Regions from separate parts of the Homo sapiens genome. Here regions 2, 3 and 4 are each linked to region 1. Evidence: fine-mapped QTL for protein levels in blood plasma. Region 1 holds a variant in brackets. A gene starts in each other region. All regions are shown on their forward strands. Distances are from middle to middle.

Region 1 (2,500 bases):
ACTAAAAATTAGCTGGGCGTGGTGGTGAGTGCCTGTAATCCCAGTTACTCCAGAGGGTGAGGCAGAAAAATTGCTTGAACCCGGGAGGTGGAGGTTGCCATGAGCCGAGATCGTGACAGTGCACTCCAGCCTGGGCGACACAGCAAGACTCTCTCTCAATAAAATAAAATAAAATAAATACATAAATAAATCTCCTATATAACCTCATAATATCAGATTTGGAGCCTTTTCCATAGAAATGAAATTCAGAAGAAGCTGAGACTCAGATATTCCAAGCTGCCTGGTGCTCTGTGAATAGAGGAGACTTGTTCTTGTGAAATCTGAGTGCAAAGACACAGGACAAATTGTTATCTACTTTTCATTCCTAAGGATACTGTATGGCCCTAAAACACAAGAACTAGAATTCTGTGATACCACGGGTACTCCACAGTGTGTTCCTTCCCCTTTCTGAACCTGATTTGACTCATCTCTATGAAAAGATGTGGGCTTTGGGGTCAGATGTGGGTTGGAATCCTAGCGCCTGTGTGGCTGCAATTTTCTTTTGTGTAAAATTGAGATAATAGTACAAAAGTAACAACAGTTAATATTATCAAGTGCTTACTGTGTGCCTGGCACTGTGTTAAATTCTCTAAGTGTATTTTCTCATTTAATTTTTGTGATAGGCTTATGACACTATTAGTATCTTCATATTACAGTGAGGGTTCAGAGAAGTTAAGGTTCCATAACTAGTCAGCAGACCTGGGACTTCACTCCAGGCAGCTGATTCCAAAGCCTATTCTAACTTTAAACTGCTACTTTTTGGAGTGTTGTAAGAAGGACAATTTATATAAAATGTTGGCACATAGTGGGTGCTGCTGTTATATGAATGGGCACAAAATCTGTCTACATTTTGCCTTTTACCAAATTTAGAATCTATTTAGTTAAAACCTTCTTAGGGCGGGTGGGGTGCAGTTGCTCATTCCTGTAATCTCAGCACACTGGGAGGCCAAGGCAGGAGGACTGCTTGAGCCCAGGTGTTTGAGACCAGCCTGGGCACATAGTGAGACCCCCATCTCTCCAAAAAACAAACAAACAAACAAAAACAAAACAAAACTAGCTGGGCGTTGTGGTGCCCCTGTATTCCCAGCTACTCAAGAGGCTGGGGTGGGAGAATGGCTTGAGCCCAGGAGTTCAAGGTTGCAGTGAGCTATGATCACAGTACTGCACTCCAGCTTGGGCAGCCGACTGAGACCCTGTCTCGAAAAAAAAATAAAAATAAAAACTTCTTAGGACAGAGTGATTAGAAGCTGTGTAGTAGATACTTAGTAACAATGTGGGTTCCTCGGGCAGGTTATCCTACGCGGAGAGCCAGGTACCAATGGGTGCGCTGCAATCCAGACAGTAATTCTGCAAACTGCCTTGAAGAAAAAGGACCAATGTTCGAACTACTTCCAGGTGAATCCAACAAGATCC[C/G]CCGTCTGAGGACTGACCTTTTTCCGTAAGTGGACTTTTCTCTAATTAATTAATTAATTACTTATTTATTTGAGACGGAGTTTCACTTTTCTTGCCCAGGCTGGAGTGCAATGGCGCAATCTTAGCTCACTGCAACCTCCGCCTCCTGGGTTCAAGCGATTCTCCTGCTTCAGCCTCTGGAGCAGCTGGGATTTCAGGCGCCTGCCACCATGCCCAGCTAATTTTTTTTTTTTTTTTTGAGACGGAGTCTCAGTCTGTCGCTCAGGCTGGAGTGCAGTGGCGCAATCTCGGCTCACTGCAAGCTCCACCTCCTGGGTTCACGCCATTCTCCCGCCTCAGCCTCCCGAGTAGCTGGGACTACAGGCACCCGCCACCACGCCCGGCTAATTTTTTTGTATTTTTAGTAGAGACGGGGTTTCACCTTATTAGCCAGGATGGTCTCGATCTCCTGACCTAGTGATCCGCCCGCCTTGACCTCCCAAAATGCTGGGATTACAGGCGTGAGCCACTGCGCCTGGCCTAATTTTTTGTATTATTAGTAGAGACGGGCTTTCATCATCTTGGCCAGGCTGGTCTCAAACTCCTGACCTCAGGTGATCCACCCACCTTGGCCTCCCAAAGTGTTGGGATTACAAGCATGAGCCACTGTACCCGGCCTTTTCTCTAATTTTAAAGTGTCTGTAATTTCACAACCTCTTGGCACAGATGTGGGAGTGTTTTTCTTCAAGCTGTCCAGAGTGTTTTGCTTCGAGCTCTTGCTTTGGTAGTTTGGCTCTTACTCTGCAGTACATGGTAAAAGTGTACTGTATATACTGGCATATGACATGTGCGAGTATACATGATTCACCTATGTTTTTGAAATTTTTTTTGTGGATGGTAGAGAGGAGCATTGAGGACTTTTCATCAACAGGTATTGAAAATGATTGAACATTGTTTTATTTGTGTAAACAGAACACACTATATATAAAAATCCAATAATTAACTGAATGGATAAGCAAAATGTGGTATAAGCATACAAAGGAATATTATTGGGTCATAAAAAGAATGA
Region 2 (2,746 bases), not on the chromosome of region 1:
ACAAGCCTGGAGCACAGGCTGGCAAGATTGGATATAGGAAGGAAAGGCCCCCTTGAGTTGGCATAAAGTCTGAGGTTTCTAGCCCAGGAGACTAAAGGCAGGTGGCCACCGCGCTGAGCAAAGCCGGCTGGAAGAAGCTAAAGGTTGAGCTCACTGTCATTAGGAGGCAAGTCCTTCGTGCTGCTCCTGTTTCTGCCAAGGACAGACTGGAGTGGGGACTTTTCCGTAACTAGAACGTAAAAGGGGGAACAGTCCCTCCTCTCCAGCGTCAATTTTTGGCAGCCGACGTCGTCTGCCCCGCTCCTTGAACTCTGACATGCAGACACCTAGAAAGTCAGACACTAAGGTAACAGCCATAAAACGCCGCCCAGAAGGGGGCAGTGACCAAAAGCACGTTCACTGGCCCCTGGGAACCGCCTGGCGCCTGCCTTCTGCAAAGTATCATTCCCGTGTGGGCTGAGCCTGGGGACAAAGGTCCGGCGCTCAGCAGACACCTCCTTGGAACCCGAGGCCTGGAAACGAAGGTCCAGAGTCCCTCATCTTATTCCAAATCCTGGCGCTCGGAATCTAAAACCCTAACTTGATGGCAAGCCAGTCAGAAGGTATTAAAAAAAAAAAAAAAAAAAAAAACAGAAAAATAAATGAGCCCCGACTTCTTGGGCGAAAGGGGGTGGCCTTTCCTCAACCCCACCCGCTGGTGACTCACCTCCCTCCAAACCAGGGCCTGCCCCTCCCGCGCCTAGGGCTGGGCGAGCAGGGCGGGCGGGTACTAAGGTGGGCTCCATCCCCGAGCCCCACGCGGGCGGACAAGCTCCGGCGTGTCCCCTCGGGTGTCCCTGTTTACTCCGAGCCCGGGAGCGAGGTGGGGGCGGGTCCTCGCGGTCCCTCCCCAACCCCGCCCCCTCCTTCGCAGGCCCCAATCCCAGTCCGGTCTTCCAAAGTCTCCAAATCAAAGCTCAGCCTTTCCCTGCACCTTCCCCGCGGACTGGCGGTCCCTGTCCCCACCCCGGGCAGAGGAGGCACCTTCAGGGTTCCCCTAGAAAATCGAGCCTCGGCCCAGACCACTGAGTCCCGGACGCCCCCGGAGGGAGCCTGAAATCCTAGAGTATGACACTGAGTTTCAAAGGGGAGCCGCTCAGCTCTCCGCCCACTGCCCAATCCCACCCTCGACCCCTTCTGCTCTCTGGAGCACCAGGGAGGAGGGCCCAGCCAGGGGAGAGGGCGCCCCAGGCCCCAAACTAGCCAGCGAGTCCCCGGGACCCTCACTCTTGGACCGCTTTCCAGAACTCCGAACCCTGTCGCGGGTCCGCGTCGCCCTCCCCCGGGCAGCGCGTCAAATCGGCGCATGCGCACTCACTGGATTGCCGCGTAGCTCTTTCTCCCCCCACCCACCAACCTTTTTTCTTTCCCCGCCCCTTCCCTCCCTCCCTCCTCAACCCGTCCCCTCCCTCTCCCCCATCAGCCCCCCCCTCGGCACTTCAGTCCGGGGAACAGCGGTGCGAGCTCCAGGCCCATGCACTGAGGAGGCGGAAACAAGGGGAGCCCCCAGAGCTCCATCAAGCCCCCTCCAAAGGCTCCCCTACCCGGTCCACGCCCCCCACCCCCCCTCCCCGCCTCCTCCCAATTGTGCATTTTTGCAGCCGGAGGCGGCTCCGAGATGGGGCTGTGAGCTTCGCCCGGGGAGGGGGAAAGAGCAGCGAGGAGTGAAGCGGGGGGGTGGGGTGAAGGGTTTGGATTTCGGGGCAGGGGGCGCACCCCCGTCAGCAGGCCCTCCCCAAGGGGCTCGGAACTCTACCTCTTCACCCACGCCCCTGGTGCGCTTTGCCGAAGGAAAGAATAAGAACAGAGAAGGAGGAGGGGGAAAGGAGGAAAAGGGGGACCCCCCAACTGGGGGGGGTGAAGGAGAGAAGTAGCAGGACCAGAGGGGAAGGGGCTGCTGCTTGCATCAGCCCACACCATGCTGACCCCGCCGTTGCTCCTGCTGCTGCCCCTGCTCTCAGCTCTGGTCGCGGCGGCTATCGACGGTGAGTGAGATTCCGCGTCCCCCTTGGACCCCTGGGGGCACCCTCTCCCCAGCCCCCACTCCTGCATACGGATGGGGAAGGGAGACGCGGGAGGGGGTGCCTTTTGTTATCCCAGTCCAGCTGACACAGCAGCGGCCCGACTGGGGGCGGGGATGGGGTCCGATTTGGGGGATGGGGGCCCTGGGCAAATGATGCTTCCGGGGCCCCCCAGCACAAACAAAGACCAGAGGCCTGGGTAGAGAGAAGAGGGCTCCCCATTTTTCTGATCCTGGGGAGGAGAGGCCTTCTTTTCCTATCTCTGTTCGGGGAGGGCCTCCGCCTCCCCTACATCCTCACAACCCCCCACCCCCCATCTGAATTGTGAAGGAATCCGGATTTGCAATGTTCGGCTGCAAAAGGGGGTGGGGGTGGGGGGGGTGGCTTTTGCACTGGCCTCTGTAGCTCGAAAGGGGAGCCAGGCCAGGGGTACCCTGCCGGGCAGAGGGCAGGCAGGCCCGGGAAGGCTGTGGGTGGGGAGAGGGAGGGCCCCCTGCTTGGGCGTGGAATCGACCCCAGAGCCCCGGCTGGAGGCCTGGGTGCTGAAGTAGGCTCTTCCCCCTCTCAGGGCCTCTGTCAGTAGCCTGGGGTAGGGCTGTGTTGGGGGGCAGAGAGGGGGAGCTCGCCATACTATGTGACTTTGAATTTTCCTTCTTAATTCCTGGGAGCTTTGAGATGAAAAAACG
Region 3 (2,746 bases), not on the chromosome of region 1:
AAGGAATACCTACTCAACATTTATTCCAGTACCTAGAATATTAAGTAACTCATTAGTAGTCACTAAAGTTTGATCAGCACTTCATAGTAAATGGAGTGCTTTCTTATCTGTAACCTCCTTTGAGTCACTCAACTATGTTATGTAGGTATTATTACTCCCACTTTATAGATGAGGAAATTGAGGCTCTGAGGCATCAGCTAATTATTCACAACCACTAAGCCAACTAGCTCTCAAAATCCCAAATCCTGAGCTATTTCTTCACTATTACCTTTCTTCTTTCAAGAACATCTGGCCAATATTAACGGGAAGCTTCTTTTATACCTGGTTAGTGACTATAAAAGCATAACTGGCAAAAATTAAATTAGTTCCTTTGGACCTTCAGCTTCTACTATAGATATCTAGATATCAGGGGTTTTTTTTCCTACTAGGACCATATTAACCAAAAAACAAACAAACAAACAAACAAACAAAAACATTAACTTGCTAGCTCATTAGATTTAGTTACCAAATTTAAAGACCTAAGAGAAGAAAACACACTTTTCCCACCAATAATTCAAAGCTTGTACGTTGCTCTTTATAAAGACGGAAATGATGAGCTGGATGATTAATGGGCCATCTACACTTCCTGGAAACTGTAAACAGTGCTTTAAGGATGTACATGACACATCAAACAACACAGCCTTAGGAAGAATCTTTAAAATATATTTCCATCCTGTTTGAACATTTCTTAAATAAGGTCACAAAATAAAAACTTATCAAAAGTTTGAACAAAACACAAATCACAATTTGATGTTTTTTGACTGTTTTTACCCTTTTTATTCTAAGTAGAAGTTGAGAAATTTTTTAGTTAATTAAAAGCCCATATGGCAATCAAGGCCTATTTGGAAAATGACAAAGGTACGGCAGTAGACCAACATTAATTCTTTGTATTACTTGGTGTTCAAATTAACATTTTTTAAAAGGACCCAATTATGATGTCAAATTGATAGATGTTTTGTGGCTTTGGATTAAAAGATGTTTGTAAGTATTTTTCGAGGTTCCTGAAATGACTATATAATTGGTATAGAACAAAATGTGCCTTGTTTTTGTGTATCCATATGTATTTAACATCCTTATATAGATGTATTTACCCTTACCTATATCATTCCCATGCATTGTAAATTTACTTATTGTGTCTTGAAAAAAATCCTAGCAAAATTTCATCAGCAAAAACTTACCTTCATTCTTGAAACTCCTAATGATGTTGGCAGAGGGCATGGAGGTCCGATCTGTTGCAAATTTGTTGTAGAGTTCCAACATGTACTCTGGTGGGTCCACCTTGGCTGAATCCTGCGTGGGGATGTCAGAGAGGTTTAGTGTCTTAAGAAACTCATCCTTCATGCTCTGGAGCAGTGTGTTAAAGTCGACACCGTCTTGCTCTGAGAAAACATCACCAAAGAGGGACATATCTTCTTCCAGAGGAGACTGCTCTAGGTTCATGATGGGGCTGCCAGAAACCAAGTAAGCTGCCAGGCAGAAAAGAGCGCACAGTGTCAGGACCAGAGAGCCCATGACTCCGCTCGAGCTCCTAGGCCAAGCCAGGAAGGTTTAGCTTCCCTGGGCTCTAAGTGGCAGTTTTATCTTGTGGAACGTAAATGTCTCCTGTCACTGGAGACAAGTTTGGAAACTCTTCCTCTCTCTCTCCCTCCCCCTACCACTCTTCCTCTCCCCCTAAAAGTCAGGTTGCAGTAATTGGATAACAAAATCCCCTATAGGGGCCTAGCCTTTCTTATCTCCCTAGTGTAAACTTGTGCACCAGAATTTGTTTCTATCTTGCAATCCCTATTTCTTTTAATGAGCATTTTGTAAACATTTCCACATTCTGACACTGGTTGAGAGATAGGACAATTTTCTCTTTGCAAAGGCTCTGCTTCTCTTCCCTTCAATTCACTTCCTTTCAGCAGGAATGCCTAAATTCTGTTTTTATGGGGCTTAGTTTCACACATGCATATAATAGGTATAAGAATCAACATAATGCACATCAATGGTGATACATGTTAATTTGAGAGGTAGGGCTCAGATAAACACTTGTGAAGACAGACCAAATATCCAAACTTTCCAAGTTTAAGTTAATAGCTATAAATGAATTATATAAATTTTTAGAAGTGTACCTTTTTAGAAACAGGAAAGTATAAACTTCATGATTGACAGGCTTTTTCCTACCTATTTGATCTGGCTAAAATAGCATTTGAAAAATAGGGCAAGTGCTTAGTTATACTGGCAACTAGAATTTATTAGATGCTTCCTACAAACAGGCATTGTACTGAGTGCTTTACACCTATCATCAAGTGTGCTCCTGTAATAACCGTATCATTATCTCCATCACATATATGGGTCAGTGAAGTGCCATAGCTTGCCAGAGGCCACAAAGTTGCAAAGTGATGGGGCCACAATTTCAACCAAGGCAGCCTGATTCTTATGAAGAATAAAACAGTCACACTTTTAAACCACTCTTCTACCAGACTAGGGCATGGGCAATAATGCTGAGAGGCCAACACGTCCCCAGATCAGCCTGGAGGCAGGAGGCAGGCAGAAATTTGTAGCTGGATGTGGACCTCAGGTCCTCCATCTGTGCAATGAGTTGTTAATATAACCAACATCTCTGCGAAATTCATCCTTCTGACTCAATCAAAATTGTCATCAAGAGGCTCCAGCAAAAGCTTGGTGTGATGGTTAATACTTACTGTCAACTTGATTGGATTGCAGG
Region 4 (2,746 bases), 22 Mb before region 1:
CCATCCCCCTCTGCAATCTCTGACCGCAGCATGCTGTGGCCCCTCCTGCACCCCCCTAAACCTGCTCAGCTCTCTGCAGCCTCTCCCGGACAGCCTCACCAGCATAGAATACCTTCCCCAGAGTAAACCACCAGGCACAGCATACCCCAGAGTGTTTCTAACCATGATCCTTCTTTGCTTTGCTCAAAGCCACACGTGATGGAAATGGACAGAGTCTAAGTGTGGACATACTGCTCTTAACGCAGTCCCTGGGGCCCTTTCCTGGGCCACAGCTTATCAGCCTCCAAAGGCCAGGGGATCATCTTCTTGGCATGTACCACTCTCAGAACAACCCACCTACTCCCCTGTCTACCAGATTGCGTGGTTCTCCCTGCTGATGAGTGTGGGCCAGGTGGCTGCCAGGTTGGTGTGAGCTAAGACCACCCCACAACAGACCAGTGACACAGCTGGGATGCAGGGATGTGGGGAGCTCCCCACAGGCTGCAGTGTGTTGTGGAGCTCCGACAGAGCAGGCTGGGGGAACCCAGGGCTTCCTCCCCCAGCTCCAGCTCAATCAGGCCTGGGCTGGAGAGGGGGCATCCAGAATGCAGCCACCAAGCCAGCCTGGGGCACAGCATCCTCTTAACCCCTATAACTATCTTCTGAATGGGAGGCTCCAAGAGCTGCAGTGACTTGTTCCAGGTGACATTTGCAGGGAATCGGTGAGGGAGTTGAGATCCCAGCCTGTGTCTAGTTTGACTCATCACCGCACTAAATTGCACGGGAGCCATATTCACTCGTGATCTCTAATGCTCAGCAGTGCATCCCACCAACAGAGCAGGGAGGCTTGCTGGCAGGTTCCGATTCTGCAAGGAGCAGGCCTCTTCTGAGCCCTGATGTGGTCCCCACACTCTCCCCATCTCCCCAGCCCCCACGGTTCACTGTGATCTTGTGCTGTCCTTTCTATATTTGGAGGACTACTTGGTCTTGTTTCCTGGATTCTTCACTCCTGTGGCCCAGGAGATGGAGCATATGTCACCCTGCCTGGAGATTCTTCTGAAGAGCCCTGGCAAGGAAATGAGAAAGTATCCTAATTAGGGGGCAATAACCCCCTGGAGAAGCACAGATTCTTTACAGTAGGCCGTGTCCTTCCCGCATGCCCTGTGTGTTTGTCAGATGTTTATAGAGCCTTCATTAACGGAAGGCTCCCTCAGATAAGACGTCGGAGCGCGGCATCGAGGACCAGATAAGCACAAGTGGAGGACAATCCAGCCCGGCAGCGGGTGAGAGTGGGTGCTGGCCAGGACGGTTCCTTCAGAGCAAACAGCAGGGAGATGCCGGCCCGCTCCTTCCCAGCTCCTCCCCGTGCCCGCTAACACAGCACGGCCGCCTGCAGTCTCCTCTCTGGGTGATTGCGCGGGCCTAAGATGTGTCCTGGGGCACTGTGGGTGGCCCTGCCCCTGCTGTCCCTGCTGGCTGGCTCCCTACAGGGGAAGCCACTGCAGAGCTGGGGACGAGGGTCTGCTGGGGGAAACGCCCACAGCCCACTGGGGGTGCCTGGAGGTGGGCTGCCTGAGCACACCTTCAACCTGAAGATGTTTCTGGAGAACGTGAAGGTGGATTTCCTGCGCAGCCTTAACCTGAGTGGGGTCCCTTCGCAGGACAAAACCAGGGTGGAGCCGCCGCAGTACATGATTGACCTGTACAACAGGTACACGTCCGATAAGTCGACTACGCCAGCGTCCAACATTGTGCGGAGCTTCAGCATGGAAGGTAGGGTCTCCGCTTGCACCATGCGCGCTGGGGTGGGACTCACAGGTCCACAGCTGCTTTCCCCAGGGTGGAGGCCACTGGCCATAGGAGGCTCTTCAAGCTTCCATTTAAATTAGTTACAATGAAATAAAATTAAAACTTATTTCTTTAGCCTCACCAGCTTCCTTTCAAATGCGTGGCTAATGGCTTCCCTATCAGGCAGTGCAGACTGAAGAACATTTCCATGGTTACTGAGAGTTCTACTCAGCACTTCTGTTGTGAAGGATTCACCTTCCCCAAGCTGTGTGCCACATTTCACACAGCAGGTGCACAGGGATGCCAGCTCTCTTTTTTCCACCCCTTCTCTTTACTCTCCTCTTCTTTGCATCACTCCCCTCTGATTCACTTCTCTTCCTTTCCCCCTTCCCTTCCTGTCCCCTTCCTACTTCAGAACAGAACAGGCAACCTATTTCACCTCCAACTAACTGGGATATTTTTAAATTTTCAAAGCACATCTATTCCTTTCTTATGAAACGGTTTTAAAAATCAGATAAAATTCTTGGACAGAGAAGTGTTGGCAGAGAACCTAATTGTTTTTAAATAGAAATATATCTGATTTAGAAGGACTAGAAGATAACAAACACGGACCTAGGACCTATGTCCTAACTCAGACAAGCTCACATGATGCAGGGGAAATAAGTTTCTGAAGAGCAAAACTGTTCAGTCAAAGCTTGCAGCCACCAAGGGTACCCACCCATGTCACCTAGGAAGTGTTAAGCCTGCACACCTAGGAAGTGTTAAACCTGTCTGCCTGCAGAGCTGGCTTTTCCTGCTGCTGCTGTCTCCCTCTGAATGTCCAGGAGCACAGAGCCTCTCCCTTCCTGGGTCTGAGACTTGCAAATGGCTAAGGGGCCTGGCTCCATACCACGCCCAGGCCAGACCTAACTGGTCTGCAGAGGCAGGACTGGCACTTCAAAACCTGCCAGCTAGGTTTCCCTATAGCACAGGGTCTCCA

Direction of the effects. Alleles are on the strand shown, and positions count from the first base shown. The strength of an association depends on the size of the effect and on how common the allele is.
As copies of G replace C in region 1, the plasma level of the protein whose gene starts at base 1,476 in region 2 goes up (moderate association).
For the plasma level of the protein whose gene starts at base 1,590 in region 3, allele C in region 1 goes with a lower level than allele G (weak association).
As copies of G replace C in region 1, the plasma level of the protein whose gene starts at base 1,192 in region 4 goes up (weak association).

Evidence for each region. PIP is the chance, under the fine-mapping model, that this variant and not a neighbour inherited with it causes the effect. Protein levels are from antibody-based Olink assays in UK Biobank. Linkage for the fine-mapping came from a reference panel and not from the study's own genotypes, which makes the PIPs less certain.
Region 2: LRP1 starts here. The variant in region 1 is fine-mapped to the plasma level of the LRP1 protein (UK Biobank, PIP above 0.99).
Region 3: it holds the start of BMP10, and the variant in region 1 is fine-mapped to the plasma level of the BMP10 protein (UK Biobank, PIP 0.99).
Region 4: it holds the start of GDF2, and the variant in region 1 is fine-mapped to the plasma level of the GDF2 protein (UK Biobank, PIP above 0.99).

What each region holds. Positions count from the first base shown.
Region 1 is chr10:69,095,755-69,098,254 of GRCh38, forward strand. SRGN (serglycin) reads left to right here. Exons shown (of 3, transcript NM_002727.4): 2 at 1,330-1,477. Among named protein-coding and RNA genes, the nearest start is that of SRGN, 8.9 kb to the left of the region's middle. The variant C/G (reference allele first, on the strand shown) is at 1,453.
Region 2 is chr12:57,127,008-57,129,753 of GRCh38, forward strand. It overlaps LRP1 (LDL receptor related protein 1), which reads left to right and starts at 1,476. Exons shown (of 89, transcript NM_002332.3): 1 at 1,476-2,024. The coding sequence starts at 1,958. RefSeq lists an enhancer at 483-1,136.
Region 3 is chr2:68,869,808-68,872,553 of GRCh38, forward strand. BMP10 (bone morphogenetic protein 10) reads right to left here and starts at 1,590. Exons shown (of 2, transcript NM_014482.3): 1 at 1,218-1,590. The coding sequence starts at 1,551. RefSeq lists a silencer at 1,406-1,566.
Region 4 is chr10:47,321,263-47,324,008 of GRCh38, forward strand. GDF2 (growth differentiation factor 2) reads left to right here and starts at 1,192. Exons shown (of 2, transcript NM_016204.4): 1 at 1,192-1,752. The coding sequence starts at 1,407.